Linked DNA regions of Homo sapiens. The protein of the gene in region 1 purifies or fractionates together with the protein of each later gene. This does not show direct contact. Each region holds a gene or a part of one and is shown in the gene's direction. Other genes may lie near its edges. The genes, in order: SLC35A5, SLC41A1, LAPTM4A, VPS45, AP2A2, RNF166 and GATM.

The links.
Region 2: the proteins of SLC35A5 (region 1) and SLC41A1 purify together in Homo sapiens (affinity purification with mass spectrometry; 2 studies listed by BioGRID and IntAct, with this or other methods). This does not show direct contact.
Region 3: the proteins of SLC35A5 (region 1) and LAPTM4A purify together in Homo sapiens (affinity purification with mass spectrometry; one large-scale study listed by BioGRID and IntAct). This does not show direct contact.
Region 4: the proteins of SLC35A5 (region 1) and VPS45 purify together in Homo sapiens (affinity purification with mass spectrometry; one large-scale study listed by BioGRID and IntAct). This does not show direct contact.
Region 5: the proteins of SLC35A5 (region 1) and AP2A2 purify together in Homo sapiens (affinity purification with mass spectrometry; one large-scale study listed by BioGRID and IntAct). This does not show direct contact.
Region 6: the proteins of SLC35A5 (region 1) and RNF166 purify together in Homo sapiens (affinity purification with mass spectrometry; one large-scale study listed by BioGRID and IntAct). This does not show direct contact.
Region 7: the proteins of SLC35A5 (region 1) and GATM purify together in Homo sapiens (affinity purification with mass spectrometry; one large-scale study listed by BioGRID and IntAct). This does not show direct contact.

What each region holds. Positions count from the first base shown.
Region 1 is NC_000003.12:112,560,722-112,564,844, forward strand, and holds the start of SLC35A5 (UDP-sugar transporter protein SLC35A5), read left to right. Parts: upstream 1-1,323; 5' UTR 1,324-1,552; intron 1,553-2,663; 5' UTR 2,664-2,682; coding exon 2,683-2,812; intron 2,813-4,123. Other genes in the region: ubiquitin-like-conjugating enzyme ATG3, read right to left, coding at 736-807. UniProt on the Homo sapiens protein: Probable UDP-sugar:UMP transmembrane antiporter involved in UDP-alpha-D-glucuronate/UDP-GlcA, UDP-GlcNAc/UDP-N-acetyl-alpha-D-glucosamine and UDP-N-acetyl-alpha-D-galactosamine/UDP-GalNAc transport from the cytosol to the lumen of the Golgi.
Region 2 is NC_000001.11:205,789,199-205,792,698, reverse strand, and holds part of SLC41A1 (solute carrier family 41 member 1), read left to right. Parts: intron 1-980; coding exon 981-1,166; 3' UTR 1,167-3,500. UniProt on the Homo sapiens protein: Na(+)/Mg(2+) ion exchanger that acts as a predominant Mg(2+) efflux system at the plasma membrane.
Region 3 is NC_000002.12:20,048,829-20,052,846, reverse strand, and holds the start of LAPTM4A (lysosomal-associated transmembrane protein 4A), read left to right. Parts: upstream 1-1,218; 5' UTR 1,219-1,326; coding exon 1,327-1,437; intron 1,438-4,018. UniProt on the Homo sapiens protein: May function in the transport of nucleosides and/or nucleoside derivatives between the cytosol and the lumen of an intracellular membrane-bound compartment.
Region 4 is NC_000001.11:150,081,276-150,084,775, forward strand, and holds part of VPS45 (vacuolar protein sorting-associated protein 45), read left to right. Parts: intron 1-66; coding exon 67-201; intron 202-608; coding exon 609-722; intron 723-1,440; coding exon 1,441-1,608; exon of another isoform or gene 1,609-1,676; intron 1,677-3,500. UniProt on the Homo sapiens protein: May play a role in vesicle-mediated protein trafficking from the Golgi stack through the trans-Golgi network.
Region 5 is NC_000011.10:1,009,305-1,012,740, forward strand, and holds the end of AP2A2 (AP-2 complex subunit alpha-2), read left to right. Parts: intron 1-23; coding exon 24-93; intron 94-378; coding exon 379-513; intron 514-1,243; coding exon 1,244-1,321; 3' UTR 1,322-2,936; downstream 2,937-3,436. UniProt on the Homo sapiens protein: Component of the adaptor protein complex 2 (AP-2). Adaptor protein complexes function in protein transport via transport vesicles in different membrane traffic pathways.
Region 6 is NC_000016.10:88,696,409-88,699,908, reverse strand, and holds the end of RNF166 (E3 ubiquitin-protein ligase RNF166), read left to right. Parts: exon of another isoform or gene 1-175; intron 176-176; coding exon 177-289; intron 290-823; coding exon 824-938; intron 939-1,299; coding exon 1,300-1,407; intron 1,408-1,793; coding exon of another isoform or gene 1,794-1,975; intron 1,976-2,275; coding exon 2,276-2,341; 3' UTR 2,342-3,408; downstream 3,409-3,500. UniProt on the Homo sapiens protein: E3 ubiquitin-protein ligase that promotes the ubiquitination of different substrates. In turn, participates in different biological processes including interferon production or autophagy.
Region 7 is NC_000015.10:45,372,045-45,375,544, reverse strand, and holds part of GATM (glycine amidinotransferase, mitochondrial isoform 1 precursor), read left to right. Parts: intron 1-3,500. UniProt on the Homo sapiens protein: Transamidinase that catalyzes the transfer of the amidino group of L-arginine onto the amino moiety of acceptor metabolites such as glycine, beta-alanine, gamma-aminobutyric acid (GABA) and taurine yielding the corresponding guanidine derivatives.

The sequences.
Region 1 (4,123 bases):
CCTTTAAAAAAAAAATCAGTCACTACTGTAACAGCTAATGTGTCACAATTTTTTACTTTAAAAATGCTGTACTGTTGCCAATATATTTTTAAAAATTATACAGCCAGGAAGGTCAAACCGTGCCTTGTTATCACTAATAACCAGCTACGGCTATCTGAAAAGCTTGGGAAAAAGGTTTTGCTCGTTAGATGGGTTCAAGGTTACTGAATGAGATAATGTTGCCAATTTCACCTCCTTCCTCTGAAATCTAAACGAGTTGGGATCGCAGTCACAACTTCCCCACTACAGCGGACTTTCATGAAACTTAAAGGAAAAGTGACCTCACCTCAGGTCTCTTTTGACCTCTGTGTGTCAAACACTAAATTCATTTTTTAAAGAGAAGCAAAATCCTTGCTTAAAAAGGCTAAAAGACTTCCAGTGTTTGGATTTAACGTTCTTCAATCTACTCAGCCTCCGAACACCCTTCCAACCCGACGTACCCGACCGCGCAGAGTTATGACGGGAGAAGGCAGGAACACGCAGAGCGTCGCTCCAAGTTTACCCCTGAGGAGTCAGAAAGCCCTAACGAACAGCCGGTTAAGACTACGGGTGGGGGCTGCACACTTCCCTGTGTCTCGAGCCCTACTGCCTTCCTACACCTTGCCCCGCCGGAGAAAGCGGGGACTCCTGCGGCGCCTGGTCCCTGAAAAGTCGAGCATGTGCCTGACAGCTCCCGGCAACCCTGGCCTGGCTTACCTTGAGGACCGGGGTCAGGTACTCAGCCACTTCCAGTGCCTTTCCCTTCACAGTATTAATCACATTCTGCATCCTGGGGCCGGAGTAGCGGCCGGCCCCGCGACGGGATGGAAAGTGCAGCCGTGTCAGGGGCCAGGGAGTCAGAAAATGTCCTCGCTGCCACCGACTCGCATCAGCACCCGGCTGGCAGCACCCGAGGGGACGGGACGCGACGCGACGGGACGGGCGGGACGAGGGGGCGGGGCGGCAGGCACAGCGCGCGAAGACGGGGTGCGCGATCCTCGCACCCCAGGCAGCCCGCGACGGACCGGACCCAGCTGTCACCCAGCCGCGAGGGAGGGCAGCGGGGCCGAAGGGAGACCTGAGGTGAGAAGCGGACGCACACGCACCCCTCGCCCTCTGCGAGCTGTCTGTCCTCGCTTTGCTTCACTCGCGCCCCTTCCGGCTTCCCTTCCTTCTCACTCTCTTGCCGTAGCTGCGCCGCCACCGGGGCCTCACGTGACACTAGACTCTCCCGGCACGTGACGTGAGAAAGGGGCCGGGCTGGGGCGGGATAAGCCGCTTCTCCCCTCCTTCCGGAAGCGTAACACTGAACGTGCCTGCGCAATGGGTGTCGGGTCCGCTTTTTCCCAATCCGGACGTAATCGTGGTTTTTGTTCTGCAATAGGCGGCTTAGAGGGAGGGGCTTTTTCGCCTATACCTACTGTAGCTTCTCCACGTATGGACCCTAAAGGCTACTGCTGCTACTACGGGGCTAGACAGTTACTGTCTCAGCTCTAGGATGTGCGTTCTTCCACTAGAAGCTCTTCTGAGGGAGGTAACCGCGCCCCGCGGGCAAGGAATTGCGCCTGCGTCTGAGGGGAGGGTGCGCCAGTGAAGAGCCCTACTGCGCATGTGTGACTAGAAGGGTAGTCCCTGACTGTGAAGGGAAATCTGGCCCCCTCCTGTCGGGGAGGCGTCCTGTAGGCGTGCGCCCAATGGGGCTGTCAGTATTGGCATTTCTCCCCACTCCCCGCAGGCTCTATGCGCTATTCCTACAGTACGCTGGGAGGCTTTGGGCAAGTTACTTACCCAACCTGGGGTTTAGTGTCCTCAGCCTATCAAAAGAGGGCCTTAGATTCATTGATTTCTACGATCTCCTCCATTTCAAACACTAACTAGTTCAGTAAAACTTTACAGCAGTGTTTCAGATATTTCCATTTTGGTCGTTATTGTAATGAAGTCTGTCCTAATAAGCTTTTTCCTCCGAGGGAAAAGAGGAGGAAAATACAATTCTGAAAGCCTTATCTTACAGCAAAATTATTTACTAATAAGAGTAAAAGCGAGGCCGGGCGCGGTGGCTCACGCCTGTAATCCCAGCACTTTGGGAGGCAGAGGCGGGCGGATCACAGTCAGGAGTTCGAGACCAGCCTGGCCAACATAGTGAAACCCCGTCTCTACTAAAAATACAAAAATTAGCCGGGCGTGGTGGCGGGCGCTTGTAGTCCCAGCTATTCTGGAGGCTGACGCAGGAGAATCGCTTGAGTCCGGTAGGTAGGGGTTGCAGTGAGCCAAGACCGCGCCGTTGCACTCCAGCCTGGGTGACAGAGCGAGACTCCGTCTCAAAATACATAAATAAATAAAATTTAAAAATAAAATTCAAAATTGCTTTGAAGAATTCTTTTCTGCTGTTGCAAAGTGTCATTTGCTCACCTGCTACCTTTGTCAGCAGGTCTAATCTGGTTCTACGTTTTCTGTCTCCAGAGTACTCCCTCTTATCAGATTTTCACTTTCCTTTTGTCATAGTTTCTTTATGCCTCAACTTTCTTGGTGCTGATATAGTCATAGCCAAAATTTTTTAAAAATTCCTTTTTTGTCCTCACGATCAATGGTATTTGCGTTTAGGGTCTGCCAACAAGGTCGTTCATGAAAGTGTTTTTCTCTTTAAGGTAATTAAAAAACAGTGGAATGGAAAAACAGTGCTGTAGTCATCCTGTAATATGCTCCTTGTCAACAATGTATACATTCCTGCTAGGTGCCATATTCATTGCTTTAAGCTCAAGTCGCATCTTACTAGTGAAGTATTCTGCCAATGAAGGTAAGTTAAGACTTGGTATATGCATGGAGCACTTCCATCTAATCACACATCTCTCTCTTGCCTTTGGTTCTGTTATATATAACATGGAAATAATAATGCCTTTTGCTTCATGTGAGTGATAAAGCATATTTAAATTTGATTATTTAACCTTGCATTCCTCAACAAGAAAAAATGTTTGATAATGGATGAAATGTGAGTCAATCAGATACAAAAATCAAACCCTTTGGTGAAGAACCAGTCGTAACATTTGACTGTTAATTCAATCAACAGGTGTTTCTGGACCTATAGCAAAATGTGTAATTGCGCCTTATTTTGAAGTAGAAGGATATATTTGTTTGGTCACTTGGCATTTGTGAGGTACTTACTATTGTAATTATTGTATCAATGGTAAGGTGTCAGCATTATATTGTGCGGTCATATTGTATCAACAGTATAAATTATAAGCTTTGATAAGTATGTATTTAAGAAATCTTTTTTTATGTAGGGATTTAAGCAAACACTTTAATTCCACAAAACTGTATTGAGTACTTCTTACTAGTTATTGAGTGAAGGGGTGGGTTGCCCCTCCACATCTGTGGGTGTTTCTCGTTAGGTGGAACGAGAGACTTGGAAAAGAAAGGGACATAGACAAAGTATAGAGAAAGAAAAAAGGGGGCCCAGGGGACCGGCGCTCAGCACACGGAGGATCTCTGCCAGCCTCTGAGTTCCATTAGTATTTATTGATCATTATTGGGTGTTTCTCGGAGAGTGGGATGTGGCAGGATCATAGGATAGTAGTGGAGAGAGGGTCAACAGGTAAACACGTGAACAAAGGTCTCTGCATCATAAACAAGGTAAAGAATTAAGTGCTTTGCTTTAGATATGTATACACATAAACATTTCAATGCCTTAAAGAGCAGTATTGTTGCCCGCATGTCCCACCTCCAGCCCTAAGGCGGTTTTCCCCTATCTCAGTAGATGGAATATACAATCGGGTTTTACTCCGAGACATTCCATTGCCCAGGGACGAGCAGGAGACAGATGCCTTCCTCTTGTCTCAACTGCAAAGAGGCGTTCCTTCCTCTTTTACTAATCCTCCTCAGCACAGACCCTTTACAGGTGTCGGGCTGGGGGACGGTCAGGTCTTTCCCTTCCCACGAGGCCATATTTCAGACTATCACATGGGGAGAAACCTTGGACAATACCTGGCTTTCCTAGGCAGAGGTCGCTGCGGCTTTCCACAGTGTTTTGTGTCCCTGCGTACTTGAGATTAGGGAGTGGTGATGACTCTTAACGAGCATGCTGCCTTCAAGCATTTGTTTAACAAAGCAC
Region 2 (3,500 bases), on another chromosome or scaffold:
CACTGTGCAGATTCTAGGAGATTCAGGCCTGCCCCACCGTGGTATTCTAGATCAAGGGCATCGCCAACTTAAAAGCGCATGTAAATCTTGTTAAATGCGGACTCTGACTCAAGAGGTCCAGAGATTTTGCATTTCTAACAAGCACCCAGCTGTTGTTGATGCTGCTGGTCCTGGGCCCACTAGCGAGATTCTGATCTGAGTCATTCTTAATTATCTGTATTAATAGAAGGTAAGCAAGAACACAGATAAAATCAAAGCCACAGATCATGTCAAATGTATTTTGAATTGGTATGCATTGTCTGCTTTATATTAATATTGAGGTGACTTATTCACAATTCAACTTTATTAGGACTAATGTTAAAATAAACTTGCATTCTTTGAGCCCAAACAATGGAAAAGAATGGAATGAAAAGCCACAACAACAGAATGAAAAGGGTCAGGAGGAAGCCAGCTTGGGATGATCATCTGTTACTTAAGACAACCGCCAGCAGCAGCTTCAAACACTATCCTTATACCACTCTGCCGAGAGAAGACATCCCTTTAGGAAAAGCTGACTCCAGCAGCCAGCCCCCTGCCATGCTCCTGGAAAGGCCAACATGGCAGGAATTGGAGTGACCCCAGAATGAGGTGACCCAGAGTTAGAGGCAAGAGGGCTGAGTTTCTGCAACAAGTAGGATTTAGGTCAGGAAGCTCCTTGTTTGGTAAACTTGGGAGCAGAATATAATGCTGATGTGGGTGACCCTGGGTCGTAGCAGCATCTTCCTTTCTAAAGAGCTCTTATTGTGCCTGTTGTCTGCTCAAAGTGGTAATTGTGGGGTGGAGAAACACAGAGAGGTTGCTGGGGTGGAAAGAGGAAGATTAAAAAGTAAGGATTATGGCCAGCCAAGCCCTGTGATGCACTGAATGGGTCTGATCATGTGGCCTCTGGCTCCCCCTGGAGAGAGAGGATGGCTATAGGCTGGGCCCTTTTGTCTCCCCAGGTGCTGATTCTCCTGTACATCGCAGACTGGATGGTGCACTGGATGTGGGGCCGGGGCCTGGACCCGGACAACTTCTCCATCCCATACTTGACTGCTCTGGGGGACCTGCTTGGCACTGGGCTCCTAGCACTCAGCTTCCATGTTCTCTGGCTCATAGGGGACCGAGACACGGATGTCGGGGACTAGCTTGGTCACTCAACATTTTCCCCATCCCTCTGCACTTTCTATTTGAAATTTTTCTTTTGTTCCCCTGTCCCTCCTCCACCCCACACTCCCACCTCTTTCTAGGACTTCACTTTGATACCAAATTCTCATTATTTTCAATGGGAATTTTTATACATTGAGCCAAGTTTGTATAGCAAGAATTTGGGAAACACAGATGGCCTGAGATAAGCAGTACAAGTAGGTTTTTGAGACAATCACCAAGTGCAGTTTCATGGTGGGTGCCTCCAGGTGATGTGGACTGGAGCAGGGGAGTTTTGTCTGGAATCTGGGGACATGGGGTTTGGCTTTAGCAACCTGTCTTGGCCCTAATGAGAAACCCTTTGTAAGTGGGCTCTGGATTTTTGGTTTTGTTTTCTTTTTATCTGTTTTGTTTTATTTTTGGTTTTGGTTGAACAGAGGGACAGAAGAATAAGTAACACTCCCAAACACAGACATACTTTTGTAGAAGTGGACCAACTTCAAAGCTCTGGACAGGAGACACCTGCTCCAGGCCCCTGTGATCCCAGTTCTGTTCTCTTGCCCTCTGGACCTAAGCGTTCCCACTCGCAGAAAGAGTAAGGTGGACTGACTTTTCAATTTGTGCACATGCCTCTTGTTCAATGGCCTGGTCAACATCAACAACCCCTCCCTCTGATCATTTCCAGTTGATTGTCATATCCAGGAAAAAATGGAACAGTGCACTCTTCTCCCTGTTGACCCATGTCCACCTATTGGTTCCCCAAAATCCACATTCTCCCTGGGCCCAAATGACTTTGTCTCCCTGGGCCCAGATTCTTTGTCTCTCTTCAACCTTCATCTCAAATTGTCTCTAAGCACTACCTTCCCCAGAGCTTGCCAGGTTGGGTTTTGAGATTAGGGTCAGGTCATGGGTATGTGGAGAATGGTTTGGAGGTTGAGGACAACCACAGGTGTCTCATTGCTGCCATTTCTCCTGAGGACATAATCACTTGGTCACCTTGGACCCTGTCACTTCCTAAAATTACTCGTTCTGTCATGCCATAGAGGTCAGTTTTCCTCTTTCTTGGCTTCTACCCACAAACATTCACCAATCATTTATTCGTTCATTTAGCAAATATGCAGCCTCCGCAAGATGAGCTCTCCTGCAGACAAGCATGGTCTGAAACATTCTTTGAGCAATATTTATTGAGTGCCTACTATGTGTTAGGTACTGTGCCAGGCACTGATAAGCCAGTGGTAAGGGAAACACAGCTCTAACCTCACCTCATTCTCCAGGTTACAAAGGCCATGTGCCCCTTTGAATCTGGCAGAGAAAGTTTCCTCGTTGTAAGTATTTGCATCTACTTCAAGCCAGATTCTTCTGCCTCTTTCTCCTTTCCAGACCCCTACTCTGTGCAGTGCTGACCACAGCTAGAGCCACCGCCCCATTGCTCAACCAGTATTTATTTCCCTAAACGACCCTTCCTCACATTCCCTTCCCTCCACCTCTCCTTACCAAGCACCCAAAAGAGGATTTAGAACTAGCAGGGTGGACATCATCTGGTTGTTTCTACTTTTCTCTGCCTAGCACAAAATTGGGAGAAAACTGGAGCCTCCATCCGCAGTCACACGTGTACAGATCTGGGGATTTGGATGTAGGCTTTTTCTAACTTCTCTCTCAGAAGCTTCTACAGAAACCCTTCCATCTGTAGCCTCAAGGGCCCACCTCCAAGGGAAGGCTTAGGCAATGATCCTGTTTCTACCAACACTGCACCTTATCCCAGGAACCTGCCCTAGACCTCCAGAGACCATATTTTCTCTCCCTCCATTTCTACCCAGACCTCCAGGCCTCCTTCTGGAATCATAGAACCGTAGAATTGGAAGGAATTTTAGAGGTTTTCTAGTTGGAGTTGTGTCCAACAGAATTCATTAACACCAGCCTGGGCTTGTTTTTCCTCCTCCCTCTGGACTTTTTTCATCTTTTCCTCCACCTCAAAAAATACTTACACACAGATTCTTCTTGTACAGGCATCAAAACCAACTCCTCTGCCCCTAAGGCTGTGTCCCTGTGGTCTCCAGCCACCCCTACCCCAGTCACTCGCCCCTTCCTCATCTCTGGAATTTGGCCAGGCAGTCCCAGAAGACTCTGGAGTGACCTCCTTTGCCTAAAAAGCAGACAGATAGGCATGCCCCAGGCCCTGAGTGAGCAGAGGAGGACTGTAGGGTGAGAGGGAAAGAAAATGAAGGTGACTTTCATGGAAGTTTCATTTCTTTTCCCCGATTGTACCAACTGCATGTACTTTTGGCCTGGCTGCAAGGAGCAATATTGGTTTACTCTCGTATCCTTAAAAAGTTACA
Region 3 (4,018 bases), on another chromosome or scaffold:
GCCAAAGAAATAACCTTTACTCTGAATTCAGTGTGGTCTCTGGCTAAGAATATGCCCTGGCAGAAGGGAAGCCCTTTCTATTCTCTGAAAAGAAGTGTGTTTACCAAAGCATTAAATGATAAATACATTTTTTAACGGTGAAGTCACAGGTCTCACAGAAATACAAAATGAACACGTGTAAAAAATTTATTTACTCATTAACCCGGGGACCAGTAAGCTGTTAGAACCAGCTCTAAGCAGAATTTAAAGCACCCATCTATATTGTTGAATCAGGACTGGGGAATGAATTTACAAATCGATGCAAAATGGCTTTTCCCAAGGAAGGGTAAGATAACAATACGAGGGGTCTTACCGAGTTGTGCAGAGCACCACAAAGAAAAGCGGACAGCCCCTCTAGCAACAGAATGCCCGGGACGGTGTGCCAAACTATGGCTGTTTTTTCATTGAAGACATTCAGTAATTTTTTGTCCATTTCAATGTGTTTCATAATTTCTCCCTACAAAAAAAAATCACTCATCTCCAAAAACCCAGCAGCTAAGTAGTTCTTCTACATTATCTTGCTTTCATTTATCCTTAATCCTTTTGCCTTTGGCAGGGTTGGATGGTCTTTCTTCGCCCCCACCAAGGAGGCTTCGGAGGGAAAAGAGGGTGTAAATCCAATCCCTCCACTCCTCCAGGCACCCTCCCATTTCCGCCACAGGGGCGAGGATGGCTCAAGGCTGGGCTTGGCTCTGTCCCTTCCCCGCAGGCCCCGCCCCCAGCCCGCGCAATAATTGAGCTGCGCGCAAAGGTCACGTTATCAGCCTGTGACGCTTCCCATCCAGTACGTGGCACACATTGCTCAGAAAAGCCCCTTGTGCCCGCTTTCTGCCATCCGCGCTGTCTCGTGTCTCCCTTTTTCCATTAAATGCCTCTTTTCTTGCGGGTCTCATCTCGGGAATAGTGCACTACGGGGACATACCTATCCCCAACTATCCTAGGCCCGAGAACCAGCCCTTGCCTTCGCGTAACAGGCGGAGACTCGCTGAGGCGAGTTGCACTTCTAATTGGGCGTGAGGTCTTGTCAATCCCCAAGTTCTTCCAATCAGAAGTCCGGTCCATCCAGCCTTCCGCTCCCCATTGGCCTGTGTGGAGGAAGAGGGGTGGGTAAGCCGAAGTCGCTGCGCTCAGTGCGCAGGCGCGAAGAAGCTGGCAGGGGCACGAGCCGGGGGCGGGTTTGAAGACGCGTCGTTGGGTTTTGGAGGCCGTGAAACAGCCGTTTGAGTTTGGCTGCGGGTGGAGAACGTTTGTCAGGGGCCCGGCCAAGAAGGAGGCCCGCCTGTTACGATGGTGTCCATGAGTTTCAAGCGGAACCGCAGTGACCGGTTCTACAGCACCCGGTGCTGCGGCTGTTGCCATGTCCGCACCGGGACGATCATCCTGGGGACCTGGTACATGGTAAGGCGGGCAGGCGTGGCGCGTATGTCCGGGGGGCCTGGGGAGCGGGGCCTGGTGCGGAGGGGGTGAGACTGGAAACGGGGTGTTGGGTGGGGCGGGGACTTGGAGGGGCGCTGCTTTTTAAGGCGCGCCAACTCTGGATGAAGTCCAAGGACTTTGGGAAAGTAACCTTGTTCAGGAATCGGAGTCGGGGGAGCGGGGGGCGGTGGTAAGCATGGGGAGATTGTTCTTTGGCAAGAATTTGAGGAGAGAAGCGGGCTTGGGAGAGCAGAGGCTTTGCAGGCGAAGGGACGAGGGTGGTAGGATTTGGTGGGAATTCCTCTGTTTTGGTTCTTGTTGTATTTCTACGATCTGAAAGGCAGCATCTCCCTTCCTCCTATCCAGTGCTCCCTGGAATTTTTTCCTCTAATGAAATAATTAGGAGCGGACCTTGGTAAACGCAGTCTAGTTTCGACATTGGTCTTCCCGTTGGGAAAGCGAAAGATCCAGCGGTAACCCGGTTGTCCGCGTTTCTTGGACTTTGTTTTGTTTCATGCCTCTCTTGCATCTCCAGAATCGCTTGGGGGCGATAGCTTTTGCCTGAGTTGACGCCTGACCAGCTTTTGTCCTGGTGCAGCCTCCTCCCTGCGCAGTAGGTGCTTTTCGTAGCCGACCGGCTGTTTTTACAGAGACCTTTATTGAGAGCCCTCTCCATCCTGGCCACCTACCCCGGTATCTCCTGGGTTCCAAGATCTGTGTGATTCTGTCCTAACCAAGTTGACACTGTTGTTGCCTGGTGATTCACTAGTAATAAGTTTGTGATTTTTTCTTTTGTAATTCACCATTTATAGTATCCATGCACATTAAACCTAACTTGTCTATGACTTCCAAATATGGGATTCAGTTTAGGTAGTTTTAGGTTATTATGATTTTGCCGAAGCCGTGACAAACTTCCTACATGGTCGACTTGGCCACTTTAATGACTTCGCGAATGTGGTTGTGTGGGTGACGTTGGTGATACTGTGCAGTTTTTGATACTTAACTGCAAAAGAGGAAGAGAGTTATCCCAGACACAATCTGTTTTCTCTGTACTTGCTGCTTCTCCCCACTCATTGACTTGAAATCATTAGTAAGCATTTGGACAAACGCCAGATGAGAATCATCTTAAATGAGGCAGATACTGTTTCATGGCCCACCCCCGGGGGACTACCTGACTCCACATGACTGCTACCTGCCCTGTTGTTTTTTACCGTCTTGTTTCTGATGTACATTTAAAAAACAACACGAATGTGTAGGTTTGCTTGTGCTGAGTTTATTTTCATGTTTCCTGTACTTTTATATTCGGAAATACCGCCTTATTGACAGAACTATATCACATTTTCCCTCAGAGACTCTTTCGTTCTGTATTTTAACTGATTTGGAATACTAAACATAGAGTTAATGACCATCAGCTGCATTATGTTTCTAACTTCCTTTTATAGCTTCTCCATTTTGCTGAGGGGCTGGGTCTCATTTCTTTTGTTTGTCCTTAGCTCTGTCTTCTATTTCCCTAAATGAATAATTCAAACCTTGAGGATCCTCAAGGCTATTACTCAATTCCGTCTTCCTCACCCCCAGAAGATGACTTTCTTTCCTATTTAACTAAGAGAATCCATCGACCTGGCTCTCTCCTGCAGTCTTAGTCTTCCTGTTTCTTCTCAGATCCTTCCCTCCACTCACAGAACAAAGGATTCCTAACTCCTCAAGAAGAGAATACCACCATTTCTATTTCAACCATCCGAATGTAATTGGCTGTATTTCTTTTCAGTTTTTCTCAGGCAGATTTTTTGATGCTGTGGGCTCAGCTAGAAAATGAATAGAATAGCAGGATAAAGTGGGAACTACAAACAGGAAACTCAAAATGCAGAGAGAAAAACTTCATTACGGGCGCTTATTCTTACAAAATAGGGAGTGAGGAGTTTACATCTGTTCCCTACTTTAAGCCCTTGTTGTGAGAAGGGTTCACATACCTCTGAAGACCATGCTTTAGTTTCACAATTTTAAAAAGATGCCATAGCTGTTCTTACTTTGCATAGACTTCTCAGATTAGTGTAAAACATTTTATTGTAAACTTCTTAAATCGTTTGACCTGTCTTAAATTGATTAAGAGATTTACTGACCACCTGCAGTGTAAAAGGCTTTGGTGGACAAACAAAAGGAATAAATCACAGGGGCCATGTGTCATTTGCCTTGTTTTCCTATTACCTGCTAAGTGCTAGACTCTCAAATGTTTCTTGTCTAACACAGCATCTGCCCTTAAGATATTTATGGTATCACAAACTTGGAGCACAGATATGAAAAACATATGGTACAGTGATGAGGAGGAGGAGAAGGTGATCAGTAATATCAGATTCTAATCAGAATAAGTACTGGAAAAAGGCCATTGGTTTTGTTTATTATAGTTTTGTTGATGACTTTCAAAAGAGTAGCTTGAATACCATAGCAGTGTAAAGACAGTCTCTACCAACTTGGGGAGACATGTAACACTTATGATGCAAGACCACCTAAGCCAAACTGTAGTATAATACTTCGAAGCAAAGAAGGCTTGTCCAAGTAGTGCATT
Region 4 (3,500 bases), on another chromosome or scaffold:
TTTCCTGAACGTTTACTATTTCCATATTCTGTCAGTTACCTTTTTTTTTCATAATTCTTTATTTAGTGGACATATCAGGCCATGGTCCACGAACTACTAGGCATAAACAACAATCGGATTGATCTTTCCAGAGTGCCGGGAATCAGTAAAGACTTAAGAGAAGTGGTCCTATCTGCTGAAAATGATGAATTCTATGCTAATGTAGGTGGTTTAAATTTTTTTAAATTGTCTTTAGTTGTTTTTATGTAAGAAGATCAATATTGGCTTGTTAGTATAGGGGCAGGCATGGGATTTCATGTGAAAGGATGATAGGGGCATCCTGTGCATAAACTGCCTCTGAAGGGAAGGCAGAAGACTTGGATTCTGACCCTTTAGCAATTTTTTTTCATAGAGATCACGTAGTTATTTACTTCTCTCCCCTCCAGTAGCTGTTTGTGAGAATAGTAATGGTATTCATCAACAGTGTCCCAGCTAATGTCCAAATTTGGTAATTAAAATAGAATTTCCCTGCCCTTCAATTCTGTGTTCCAAATTCTTTTTCACTTCTTTCAAGTTGTCTGAAAGTCAGACTAGTTGATGAAGTGTGCTTCCAACTTTCTTTTTCACAGAATATGTACCTGAACTTTGCTGAGATTGGTAGCAATATAAAGAATCTCATGGAAGATTTTCAGAAGAAGAAACCAAAAGAACAGCAAAAACTAGAATCAATAGCAGACATGAAGGTAAATTGAACATGTACATGAATGACAAACATGTGACAGTTTGGTACTATTCATGTAAGCAACACTTTTGGAATCTTCTGGGTCTAATTTCTACCTTGATTGATTTTATTTGGTTTGAGACTTATTTTCTGTAATGTCTTTAAACAATATAGTGAAAACTTTATGATAAGCCATGTGCTTCTTTCCATTCTTCAGTAATATCTGGACTATTTAAAGACTCAATCTATTGCTGGGAGCAGTGGCTCACGCCTGTAATCCCAGCACTTTGGGAGGCCGAGGCGGGTGGATCACCTGAGGTCGGGAGTTCAAGACCAGCCTGACCAACATGGTGAAACCCCGTCTCTACTAAAAATACAAAATTAGCCAGGTGTGGTGGCGCATGCCTGTAATCCCAGCTACTCGGGAGGCTGAGGCGGGGGAATCGCTTGAACCTGGGAGGCGGAGGTTGGGAGGTTGCAGTGAGCCAAGATCACGCCACTACACTCCAGCCTGGGCAACAAGAGCAAAACTCTGTCTCAAAAAAAAAAAAAAACTCAGTCTACCAACATATACCAGTTCTTCTCTTCTTAAGCATAACAAAATGCCATGTGGCTGAAAGTTGTAGATGCTTTAATCTGGGCTGAAAAACAACCCCCGCTTTCCCCAACCCCCATTCAGTACATGCTTATCCTCAGTCAAAAAATAACAGAACCTCCCATTGATGTTTTTCCCATGGCAGGCGTTTGTTGAGAATTATCCACAGTTCAAGAAAATGTCTGGGACTGTTTCAAAGCATGTGACAGTGGTTGGAGAACTGTCTCGATTGGTCAGTGAACGGAATCTGCTGGAGGTTTCAGAGGTTGAGCAAGAACTGGCCTGTCAAAATGACCATTCTAGTGCTCTCCAGGTCAGTCCAATTTGATGAGCACCTACTATGTGTAAGGCACTGTGCCAGGCAGAGCAAGAGATAAAAAGGCAAGTAATCCTTCTTCATCAACATGGAATTTAGTCCAACAAGGAGCTGACATGAGAACACAAATTAATATTATTTAAGATAGATCTATAAAAAGAGTCACAAGAGAAGTGTAATGTGCAATTCCCAAGGGTTCAGTTAATTAGTATAAGGGCAGCCTAGTCTACTAGAAAGAGCACCAAACTAGAATCAGAAGATCTAGATTGGAGTGTTTGGTATACCACTTACAGGCTTTGTGACATGGAGCTGTTGACTTAATCTCTGAGCCAGTTTCATTATTTGTAAAATAGGTATATTAATACTCATCTCACAGAGTGGTTAGGAAGACTTTAAAAGATAAAACATATATTAAAATGTATTGTCTAAGTTTTTTCATTATTGAAGATCTGCTTTTCATCGCACCAACATATTAATGCCTGCTATATGTATATACTACTGCTGTGAGGATCTGAATACAAAGATGAATAAGATACCACATTACAGTAGGGGAGAAAGAAATTTAAACCAGCAATTGTAATACCAAGCACTATGTACTATATTAGAGGTATTTACAAAGGAATATGGAAATACAGAGGAAGGACAACTGTTTTCCCCAAGGATGAAGCTTCTTAGCACTTCTTAGGGAAAATAACATCAAACAGGGAAAAGGAAGAAACATTCTCAGCAGAGAGAATGCAGGCATGAAGATGTGAAGAAATAAATATTGATATATATATATATTTTCTATATATATATAAAATATTTATATTTGAAATATACATATATTTAAATATATATATGGGAACAGAGAATAGTTCAGTGTGGCTAGTCCAGGGTACAAGATGAGTGGTCTTAGACTGGAAAGACTGACTGAAGCCAGGTTATGGCCATTGGAAGGAAGTTGGGCTTTAATCTTAAAATGATGGGGGCTCCCGGAGGATTTTAGAAGAATAGCAACATAATCAGACTCTGGCCTCAAGAAATGTATAGTCTAGTTGAAGAGACAAAACTAAAGCACAAGAAAAAATTAGATAATGTTTCAAGATGAGAATTAAGTCATAATTGTAATACTGACTGTAACAGGTTTTGAGGTTATTAGGAACAGTTCTTAGAGAAGGCAAGATTTGGATGGACCACAAAAGAATGAATAGAATTTGGGGAAGGAGTTCAGCCAGGAGCAGCAAAAGCAAAGATGTAGAAATATGCAGGAAGTAATAAACAGTTTGACCTGTAGAGAGTGAGTATGAAACAGAATTAGATAAAATTGAATTGGTAAACAAAAAACAGTTTACAAGCTTTATGAAGAGGCTTGTAAGAATTTATACCTGCTGAGATAAGCAAAGAGATCCAGTATAGGATCTTATGTAGAAAGTTGAGGTGAGGAAGGCAGTATTTTAGGAAATGTAACCTAGTAAGGATGCTTTAGAGGTGAAAAAACAGGTCAGAGAGACTTGTAGACTTACAGTGATAGTAGTAAAAATGTACAGCAAGGGGCTGAACTGAAAAACATTTCAAAGGGAGAAGAATTAGACGACAGGCTGGATATAAAGATAGAATAAATCAGAGGTAATCCCATGTTTCCTGAGAAATGACAAAGTATGATGTCACTGACAAGTAATTTAGGACTACGAGTCCTTTAGGAAATAGCCATTTCTAAGCCACTTATAAGAAGCACATTTCCCTGTTAATAGGGCCCTATATTCTAAAGCTTAGCTTCTTTCTTTCCCAGCTACAGTTCCACTTTATTCTATAAAATAATGCCAACCTGTTATATTGGAAACAACTCAGGTTTTGGACCCAGACTGGCTTGGCTTATATCCTACCTCTCCTTACCAAAGTTTCTTTGG
Region 5 (3,436 bases), on another chromosome or scaffold:
CTCGCCTTTGCTGTTTCTCACAGTCCACAGCAGGAAGTGCAGAACATCTTCAAAGCAAAGCACCCAATGGACACAGAAGTCACCAAAGCCAAGGTAACACGTCTGGAGGGACGGCCCCGGGGGACACGCAGCCCGTGACCCCGCGCCAGGGTCTGGAGGGACGGCCCCGGGGAACACGCAGCCCATGACCCCGCGCCAGGGTCTGGAGGGACGGCCCCGGGGGACACGCAGCCCGCGACCCAGCGCCAGGGTCTGGAGGGGCGGCCCCGGGGGACACGCAGCCCACGACCCAGCGCCAGGGTCTGGAGGGGCGGCCCCGGGGGACACGCTGCCCGCGACCCCGCGCCAGGGTCCTCATTCTCCTGTTTCTTTGGACAGATCATTGGATTTGGTTCTGCACTTCTTGAAGAAGTTGATCCTAATCCTGCGAATTTCGTGGGAGCTGGAATCATCCACACGAAAACCACCCAGATTGGATGCCTGCTGCGCTTGGAGCCGAACCTGCAAGCCCAGGTCAGGCCCTCAGGAAATGGTGGAACACACTTGAGTTGCTTTTTATTCTGGCACAATGTACGTGGTGAGATGTGTAGCTCTTTAGTGCAGTTCAGTCAGTTTTGACAGATGTTGTTTAACCACCACCCTGTCAATACATGGTTGCCTCCCAGCCTCCCCGCAGCTGGCCACCGTGGAGCATCATCCCTAGTGCAGTTCAGTCAGTTGTGACAGATGTTGTGTGCCTGTTTAACCACCACCCTGTCAATACATGGTTGCATCCCAGCCTCCCCACAGCTGGCCACCGTGGAGCATCGTCCCACCATGGAGCAGCCTGGCCCTGGGCGGTGGCTCTCCCAGCTGTTCCTCTCTGTCACCGCGTTGTTCCTTCTCACCACGTCCCGTTCTGGCGACGGACACCTGTCTCCGTTTCACTTGGGTGGCACCCAGGAGTGCTGCTGTCGCCCAGGGCCTGTGTGTGGTTAGTGCTGCAAGAACATCCCACAGCTTCTCCAGGTGGCCGTGCCACTTTGCACTCCCGCCAGCTACGTACGAGACGCCAGGCGCTCCCATGCCAGCCCTCAGTTTTCATGCTGACAGTGTGTGTGGTGCTCAGGCCTCTGCCGAGTTGTGGGTGCCTCCAGAGAGTGGTCCCTGGGCATGGCCCACAGGGTTCTGCATGGCGGATCCTGGACCCGAGGGCTGTGTGAGCCTCGGCGTGCCCGTTGACCTGCTGTGCTCTCTGTTTCAGATGTACCGGCTCACGCTGCGCACAAGTAAGGAAGCCGTTTCTCAGAGATTATGTGAATTGCTCTCAGCGCAGTTTTAGTCCTGAGGATGGAAGACCAGGCTCGTGTGTCTTGTGTTGTCTTCGTCTGTGCCGTTTGTCTTCGTGGCCATCCTGCAGATGAGCACCGTGTCCAGTGCCACAGCACAAGGCGCCTCCCCGCCCCGCCGCCCCACACCTCTCCCCTTTGGGCTGGACGGGAACACACGTGTGTGGCTCAGGAGGAAAAGCTCAGCCTGGACTGTGGCAGCCACGGCAGAAGGTGGATCTTGGGATCAATTTTTATAAAAATCGAGACAGTTCTGTGGTTAAATCTACAAATTAAAGGGAAATTAGAAGTTGGCGTGAACGTGGCGTTTGTGGGAGTGTCACTGAGATGGCCCGTGCTGCCGCCCACCCCGCCTCGGAGCCTCTGGGAGCAGCAGTGCCACTGTGCATGGCGTGGGCTGAGCCTTGGTGTGTGGCCGTCCTGGTGGCTGCACACCTGGCGTCGTCCTGGGCCCTTGGGAGGAGCACAGCTGACCCTGGTTTTGCTGCAGTCCCAGCTGGACTGTTTTCCCAGGCAGGATTTTAATCTAGAATTTAGAAACATTTGTATTTGTAATGACTTCTGGCAAAAGCACGTGTCCTGGCCGGATGTAACTGTTCTCCTTTCCCAGCTCCTGTTTGTGAAGGGCGTCTGTTATGCTCCTGCAGTCGCCGAGGCCTTGGATGTGCAGCCAGGGGAGGAGCGTCCTGCCGGCCCCGCAGGGCCCCCAGGACTCCAGGGTAAAGTGTGGGCCGGTGGCGCAAGACTCAGAGGTGTGCTCGTCTCTTTCCTGTCAGAGTGGGCGTCCCCAGGCCACGGTGCAGGCCTGAGTCCTTCCACCGGCCCCGTCCAGTCGTCCCTGGAGGGGCTGTGGAGGAGGGACGCCTCTGTGTGGTCAGGAAGTGAAGGGGCCATTGGCCGCATGCCATGTGCCACCTGCGGCTTGTGTCTCACCTGTCATCTGGACTCAGCACCCAGGCTGCACGTCTGACACCTGAGAGGCGAGAGAGTGGGGCCGGCCTAGGAGCCAAGGCTGGGGCCTTGCGCTCTGTCCCCAGGATGGTGGCCTTGTTTGTCCTAAACACACCCAGCACAGGTTCTGGCTTCCTGACATGCTGTGGAGGCAGGGAGGGTGGGTGGCCACATGTGCTTGAGGGTTTTCACCCTGGCCCTCAGTTGCCTGCTGTGCGGGTCCCTGGGGCAGCTGCAGGGGCTCATGGACCCATCAGGGTCTCCACAGCTCCCCTGCAGTGTGTGCACCCCACAATGTCTGCGGCTCTTCTTCCGGCGTGTCGGGCTTTGATCACAGCATAGCCACGTCAGTGGCGTGCGCCTCTCGCACAGGCCATTCTGGGTCTGGTGGTGCCAGGTGCCGTGACACGCCGTGCTGGGCTTGTGCTGCAGCTGGGTGGTGTGGCCCTCATTCTCATGTTCCAGCTGCTGGGCAGTGCTCTGCCTGTGTGCTGCGCCTGCAGGCTGCGTGTGCTGCCGTGGATCTCCTGCATCCCTTGACCCCTCCCGCCATCAGAGGAAAGGCTGCTCCCCGAGGCACCGCTTCCCTGTGCGGCGCTGCAGAGGGGCCCTCAGTGTGGCACTCCTCGTCAAAGAAAAATAAAGGCTAGAACTGCACCCCGGATCACGCGCTTTCTTTGGGGGGAAAGCATCCCATGTAACCCTCATAGCTCCCCGGGGGTCGCGTGAGGCACAGACCCCAAGGTCCCCGACCTGTCCTTCAGCAGTGGGCTCACGGGCAGCGGGCATCAGAAAGTGACCTGCCCTTTGCTCCGCCGGTTTGATTCTGGGTGTGTGGTGGAGCTTTTTGGGACTCAGGTCATGCGGGAACCCCTCCAGCCTGGCCGCAGGGCTCCCCACTGTACAGTGTGTTGAGGTGCAGCCCAGGGCTCCTTCCTGGGGAACGGGAGGCCCCGTGGGGATCCTCCAGTTGATCCTACCACAGATGGTGCAGAAGGGGCTCTCGGGCAGATGGGGGTGGCCCCCGGAGGACGGTGGGCTTCGCCAGAGACGGAACAGTCCTAATGGAGGGAGGGCAGGGGCCCAAAGCCAGAGGCAGCTTCTCTTACCAGCCCAGACCCTGCTGGGGGCAGCCCTGCCCAACTGCAGATCCCAGG
Region 6 (3,500 bases), on another chromosome or scaffold:
TGGCTGCTCAGTGCCTGAGATTGTTTTAGCAGCAGAAGGGACCGGGTCCCCCTGCTGCTGGCAACACAGACGCTTGCTTACAGTTCTCTGGTCCTGGACACCTGAGGTCTCGGCCTCCCCAGGACGGCCCTTCCAGATTCTCAGGACCGCCTTGCCCTCCCTGCCCTGTCTCCTAGGTGACCCTGGCAAAGATGAGAGTGCACATTTCGTCCTGCCTGAAGGTCCAGGAGCAGATGGCCAACTGCCCCAAGTTCGTCCCCGTGGTGCCCACATCACAGCCTATCCCCAGGTAGGCACGCTGCCGGGCAAGGGAGAGGAACTGTCCTCGGCGGTTTCCTCGTTCTGGGAGCAAGCGCAGTGCCCCATCCCAGAGAGGCTGGGGGAGTCACCCGGGGCCGGGTCCACTCTGGGGAAGTGGACCTTCCTTGCCACCCTGCAGGAAGGCTCCTGTGCTGCCCTCCCTGGCATACCCACCAGGCCCCCTGGGGTAGGGACAGCTCAGCTGTGGGGAGCAGGAGGAGGGCGCAGGCCGGGCCCACACATCGCCTCCCAGCAGGTGGATGGGCCGAGAGACGGCTCCTGCCAGGGCAGCGCCAGCAGAGTCTCTGCCGTTTGGCTGGCCTAGTTGTGTGGGGTGGACGAGGGTCCTGGGTGTGTCCTCAGGAGGCCATGGCGTGCAGAGGCACGGGGGGCACCCAGCCACTGCCACGCTCTTGCAGCCTACAGAGGGCAGGCCTGGGGCCACGCCTGTGTTTGAGAGAAGCGGGGAGGCAGAGCCCCTAGACACCTAGCCGTGCCACTCACTCTACCCCCGCCCCGCCAGCAACATCCCCAACAGGTCCACCTTCGCCTGCCCGTACTGTGGTGCCCGCAACCTGGACCAGCAGGAGCTGGTGAAGCACTGTGTGGAAAGCCACCGCAGCGACCCCAACCGCGTGGTGAGCAGTGCCTGCCCCAAGCGACGCCTGCGCCAGGGGAGGCCTGTGGGGGACAGTACAAGGCCCAGGAGCCTGCTCGCGGCGAGTCCGGGGGTGCCCAGGCCACAAAGGCCTCCTGGGACCCAGGGTGGGAACTTGGCTGCCCGAGCAGCACCTGGCGGAAACCGGGGAGTGTCCATGAGTCCTTCAGGGTGACGCGCACTGAATAACTCGCTTGTCACCGGGACACGCGCCTCCAGGTCTGGGGTGCCTTCCCAGGCTGAGGCAGCACTGACGGGGCTCAGTGGAGGGCCCCCAGTCCTACTGCGGCTACCCCGCCTCTCCGCGGTCCGGCTCGGCTTGACCCCAGTGCCTGTTCCAGGTGTGCCCCATCTGCTCGGCAATGCCCTGGGGGGACCCCAGCTACAAGAGCGCCAACTTCCTGCAGCACCTGCTTCACCGACACAAGTTCTCCTACGACACCTTTGTGGTAGGCATCCCGCCAGCACCGTCCTCCCCCACGCCCTCCTCATCCACCCTCCTCCTGCTCGGGCCCCTCGCCAGCCTCAGGGTCCGCAGGGTTCAGAGGAAGCCAGAAACAGAAGCCTCGTTTCAGGTGGCCACATTCCCCCAGGTTCTGTGGGGGCTGCCTGCAGGTGGGGAGTGATGGCAGCTGAGTTTGAGTGGCCACTAGAGGGTGCCCAGGCCTCTCGGGGACATGGACCGCACAGGGCAGGTCCCTGCCTGCCCACCCCACAGAACCCCTCGAGGGTGAGCCAGGCTTCCTTCTGGAAGCTTTCTAGAGAGCGCGGGAAGGACTTTCATCAACATCGAACACTCCAGCCCTGTCTCCTTTTCCCACCCGCCGCGGGTCAGGCACACACCTGGCCCCCGGGCCTGCAGACCCTCGCACAAACTCCTCACTCCTGGTGCGGCCCCTCCCTGCGCCGCCCTGTTCATTCCTGGCCCTGGCTAACAGTCCTGGCGATGGCTGTCACTCCCTCTGCCAGTCGTCCGGGACCCACGCTCCGCCTGCCTCAGGATGGAAATTGTTAGAGGTCAGGGAGCCCTGGCCGGCCTGCTCACCTCGGAAACCCCGGGCTTAGAGTCCGACCTGAACCAGCAGCCATCCATTCCGAGTGCCCCCGTACCCAGCGGGTGATGGACACACCTTCACCTTCTCACCCCCCAGAGGACCGTGCAGGCCCCGAGCCTGTGGGGACAGTGGAGCTGGGTCCTTCCTGTGTCCTGCTGGAGGGAGGCAGGAAGGGTGGACACGCCTGTGTGGGTGATGGGCAGAGGGGACCTCTCCTTCCTGTCTCCCTCGAGCCCGGTGCATCTCTCCTTCCTGTCTCCAGGACTACAGTATTGACGAGGAGGCCGCCTTCCAGGCTGCTCTGGCCCTGTCTCTCTCTGAGAACTGAAGGGAAGCGCAGCCACCCGCCTGCGTCTGGGGTCAGGGATGTCCCCGCTCCTGTGTCGCACCTGGCACCTGCTCGGGAGCGCACCTCACCGGACTGAGCTCACAGGAGGAGCCTGCACCCGCGCAGAAGGGGAGCCGGGGCCGAGCCTCCGGGCCTGAATACGGGCCAGCCGCCGAGGCCGCCAGAGCAGGGCCGCCTGGTCCCACCGGCGTCGCTGGGTTCTTCGGTGCTTCTGGCCGAGCAGGCGGCCTACTTGGGCAGGGCTGGACGCTGGGACCTGGAGCTGCCGCCGTCTCTTCAAAGCCATGATACCCCCTCGTGGGAAGAAGGGACCGACGCGCGAGTCGCGCTCCGCAGTCGAGCCGGGAGGAACCCAGGCTGCTGCCCTGCCCAGCCCGACCCTGCCCCGGCCCCACTTCCACCTTGCGCATTTGGTACTGGCTTTTGTGATACTTAGGAACCCTGGCATCTTTTCTATATTATCCAGTGTGATAATCTTTTCACGTTTTATAGAGCAAAGACAGAGCAGTTACTCTTCATATTGCAATATCTGTGTTTGACTAGGAATAATAGTATTTTTATGGAACATTTACAAAATTATATTTTTTAAGAAAACAATCAAAACAAGCATTGGGGGATTGGGGCAAGGATGGAAGGAGCAGTGGGGCAGCTGCCAGAGCTCAGGCGAGCCATGGGGTCTGCTGTGGGGTCTGCCCTGGCCACCCACTGTGTGTCTGGGTCCTTGAGGTTTGTACGTTTCTCTTTGATGACCAGGAAGAAATCCCAGCACCCCAGCCACAGGCTGTGGCTGCTCCCAGCAGAGGCGGGGCCGGCAGAGAAGGGGCCTCCTCCACCCAGAGTCCTGGCCTTGGCCCGCTGTCACCTTCAAAGCTGACTGTGCCCCGCTGCGGGAGGGGACGGCACCCCAGTGGTGGCAGAGCTTGGGGGCCTGGGCAGGGGCCCGCTTGGCGGGCCGGGCAACACGTCAACATTCTTTTCTGTTCTTGGCATTAATTATTGCTGTCTTTTTTTTAAAAAAAAAAGTTTAAATAAAATGTCTCAGAGCATCTCTAGCAGCCTCGACTGGCTTTTGTGCTCCACGGTGTGGAATCGCCAGCTGCTGTCTGTGTTGGAGGTCGGCTGTGTCCTCCCCAGGCAG
Region 7 (3,500 bases), on another chromosome or scaffold:
TTCTTCACAAGCCCTGCATCTTTGCCCCTACCTAAGTCTCTTCCATCCATCTTCCTGTGCCCTTTAGTCTGTAGTTTAAACCTACCACCACCTAGCTTCAATGACACCTTTCACAAAGTCTTCCAGGATTTCCCTGGCAACAAGTAATATCTCTCTTTTTAAAAACTCCTAGTGGTGGCCAGGCGCGGTGGCTCACACCTGTAATCCCAACACTTTGGGAGGCTGAGGCGGGTGGATCACGAGGTCAGGAGATCGAGACCATCCTGGCTAACACGGTGAAACCCCGTCTCCACTAAAAATACAAAAATTAGCCAGGCGTGGTGGCGGGTGCCTGTAGTCCCAGCTACTTGGGAGGCTGAGGCAGGAGAATGGCATGAACCCAGGAGGCAGAGGTTGCCGTGAGCTGAGATGGCGCCATTACACTCCAGCCTGAGCAACAGAGTGAGACTCCATCTCAAAAACAAACAAACAAACAAAAACTCCTAGTGGTTTTTATCTGTAACGTTCTTATATCCAGGGCCTCTATGGGCTGGTGTTCAGGTTCTATACTGCATAAGGATTCCATATCTAAGGGACCACTTTCCACATTGTAGACACAGCCTAGACTCCTATTAATAATGGGTTACAAATGTATCTTTAGTGTCCTTAAATTTTTCCTGAATATTTACACTTTTATTTGTAAAGTGGATTGAGGAAAGAAGTTCTGTAACAGCATTGTCGTGGTCTTCAGAAATATTGCCTACCATGTACCAGGGCTCTAGAGGTATTAATATAAAAGATCTTCCTTTCTATTTGAAGAGATTTGATGTTCACATAGAAACGAAGACCAAGTATCTTATTCCAGTCGACTGACAAGGCAGTTGAAGTGCCAGGAAAGAGGAATGACCAAGGGCTGGCCAGTTAAGAAGTCCTCTTGAAGAAAATGACTCCTGAGTTAGACTTGGAAGACAGGGAAATAGAAAAAGTAATAACTTCTAATTGTTCTGAAACTATCTTTGGTTCTGATATTTGGAATTTGATGAGAAGATTAATTTATACACCATCCACATGTTTTTAAAAGGCATAGTAGTCTTTTTAAGTCTTTTCTTGAAAAGTCCCATCCCCTAACCATTTTAATTGGGTGAAATTAAAATTTAAATCCAAGCAATAATTTATCCTTCTACTTGTCTTTAAAATGATAGACTTTCATATCATGCGATTTTACAGAATCAGAATTCTCAGAGGTAATTTTGAGTTCTTTGTCACTTGATTTATGACTTTAGACTTTGTCATTTCATGGACTTGTGGAAAAAGTACCATGCTGAAGTCAGGAGTCTGGGATTAATTAGGTATTTGATAAAAACTTGATAGCTAGTCTCGGTTACTTAGCTATTTGACCTTGTACAAGATTCCACAAATTTCTGGGCCACAGTAAAATGAAGATATTAAGAGGTTTGCTAGTTTGCTATCTACCTAACAGGATTAAGGATTAATCTAAAGATAAAAGGTTACATGTTAAGTATTTTAAAGGACAACACAACAACTTATTATAGTTGTATGGATCCAGTTTGCCAATTACATTCCAAAGGTACTTTGTCGGTGTAATAGTTGTAGATATCAGTAACATTAGCAGTATTGATTTCATTCGTCTGGTTCTTTTTGTTTGTTTATTCTTCTTTCTCTTTCTCTCTTTGATTCTAGACAGGAAATAATGGTTATTTCTGTTTCATGCCATGTGCTAAGCCTGGTTTTGAGGGAGAAGAAAGTAAATCTAAGACATGCATGGATCCTAGCAAGCAAGGCCATGCCTCGTAGTAGAGAAGAATGACACATATATTAATCAGTTTGGGAACAATAAAAGAAAAAATAATGTAGTAAACTGTCCATAGGCAATCAGAGCAGAAGATGTTGGAAGATATAAGTACTAGAGAAATTTTAAGGAAAGGAATGTGGAACATAATTGTTGGGAAGCATAATTTTTTAAAGCTCTGTGACTTTTTGTTCTGCAAAATATAGTAAATATCTGCTATCAAATATATATATATATAGATATATATTTTTTTAAGATGGAATCTCGCTGTCTCGCCCAGGCTGGAGTGCAGTGGCGTGAGCTCGGCTCGCTGCAAGCTCCGCCTCCTGGGTTCATGCCATTCTCCCACCTCAGCCTCCCAAGTAGCTGGGACTACAGGTGTCCCCCACCAGGCCTGGCTAATTTGTTTTTTTTGTATTTTTAGTAGAGACGGGGTTTCACCGTGTTAGCCAGGATGGTCTCGATCTCCTGACCTCGTGATCCACACGCCTTGGCCTCCCAAAGTGCTGGGATTGCAGGGGTGAGCCACCGTGCCCAGCCTCAAATATGTTTTTTGTTTTGCTTTTGTCTTTTAAAAATAAAGCCCTTGATAAAGGACCTTTTATAAAATACAAGATTAATCAAGATTAGTGTAATATAAGCTTACAGCTGGATAAATACATTTCTGTTGTCATTTCTTAGCCTTCCAAAGACAGTATTTAAAAATTCACTTGGCAAACCTTTGTAAAGGGTTTTAGGCTTTGAAAGAATATAAAGGTTCAAGGAATGCAGACATACCTTTGCAACAGATTATTAAAAGCATCATATGCTAAGCGTCTAATATAGTGTTCATCATCTTGCAAACAACTTGGTGAATGATTGCTGGCTCATTTAGCAGGGTTATAAAGGAAGTGTAAACAATTTCTAGCTATCTCTTGTAAAACGTATTGTGCCCTGATCATTTGTACTTTGCCCAACCTTTGCCAGATTATAAACTCTACAAGAAAAAATCACATTTGTTCAAATAACCTTTTTCTCCCAGGAAGGTTTAATTTATCAAGGCAAGCTTCACCCTGCACAAATAGTCACGGAGGATACTTTGGAATGAGTCTGGCAAGACAGCATAACTCTGCATCTGCTGTAACCCAGTGTTAAATTTTCAAAGGCTTCTTGTCCCTAGTGGATTGTAGGAGATGTGCCTGGCATGAGAAGGAGGAAGTGGTGAATGGATGAGTAGTACCAGCATGTATCTGAGAGGAATATAAAGAGTCATTATTATCCTCTTTCTGGTTGCTGTTGCAGAAATTCCTAGGAGTAGAAAACAGTGGAGTGCTTTTATTTTGTTTTTTGAAAGGGTAGCTTGGTCTTTAAAAATGTTTAATGATGATAACATTTTTCATTAGTCCAGAAATTCAGCCTGCTGTTTGCCTATAGACCTTAGTAAAAGAGCTAATTAATGATTCAGACCCCAGGCGTCAGCAAACTTCATCTTTCTACCAGATAATAAGTAATTTAGGCTTTGCAGACCATCGGTCTCTGTTGCAACTACTCAACTCTCAGCTGTGCCATTGTAGTGCAAAAGCAGCCATAGACAATACGTAAACAAATGAATGTGCCTGCGTTCCTGTAAAACTTTATTTACAAAAACAAGCAGCAGGCCAAATTTGCCTATGGACCTTTTTTTACCAGCCTCTGTTTAAGACTTTCACTGGCATCATTCAGTTTTTCTAAA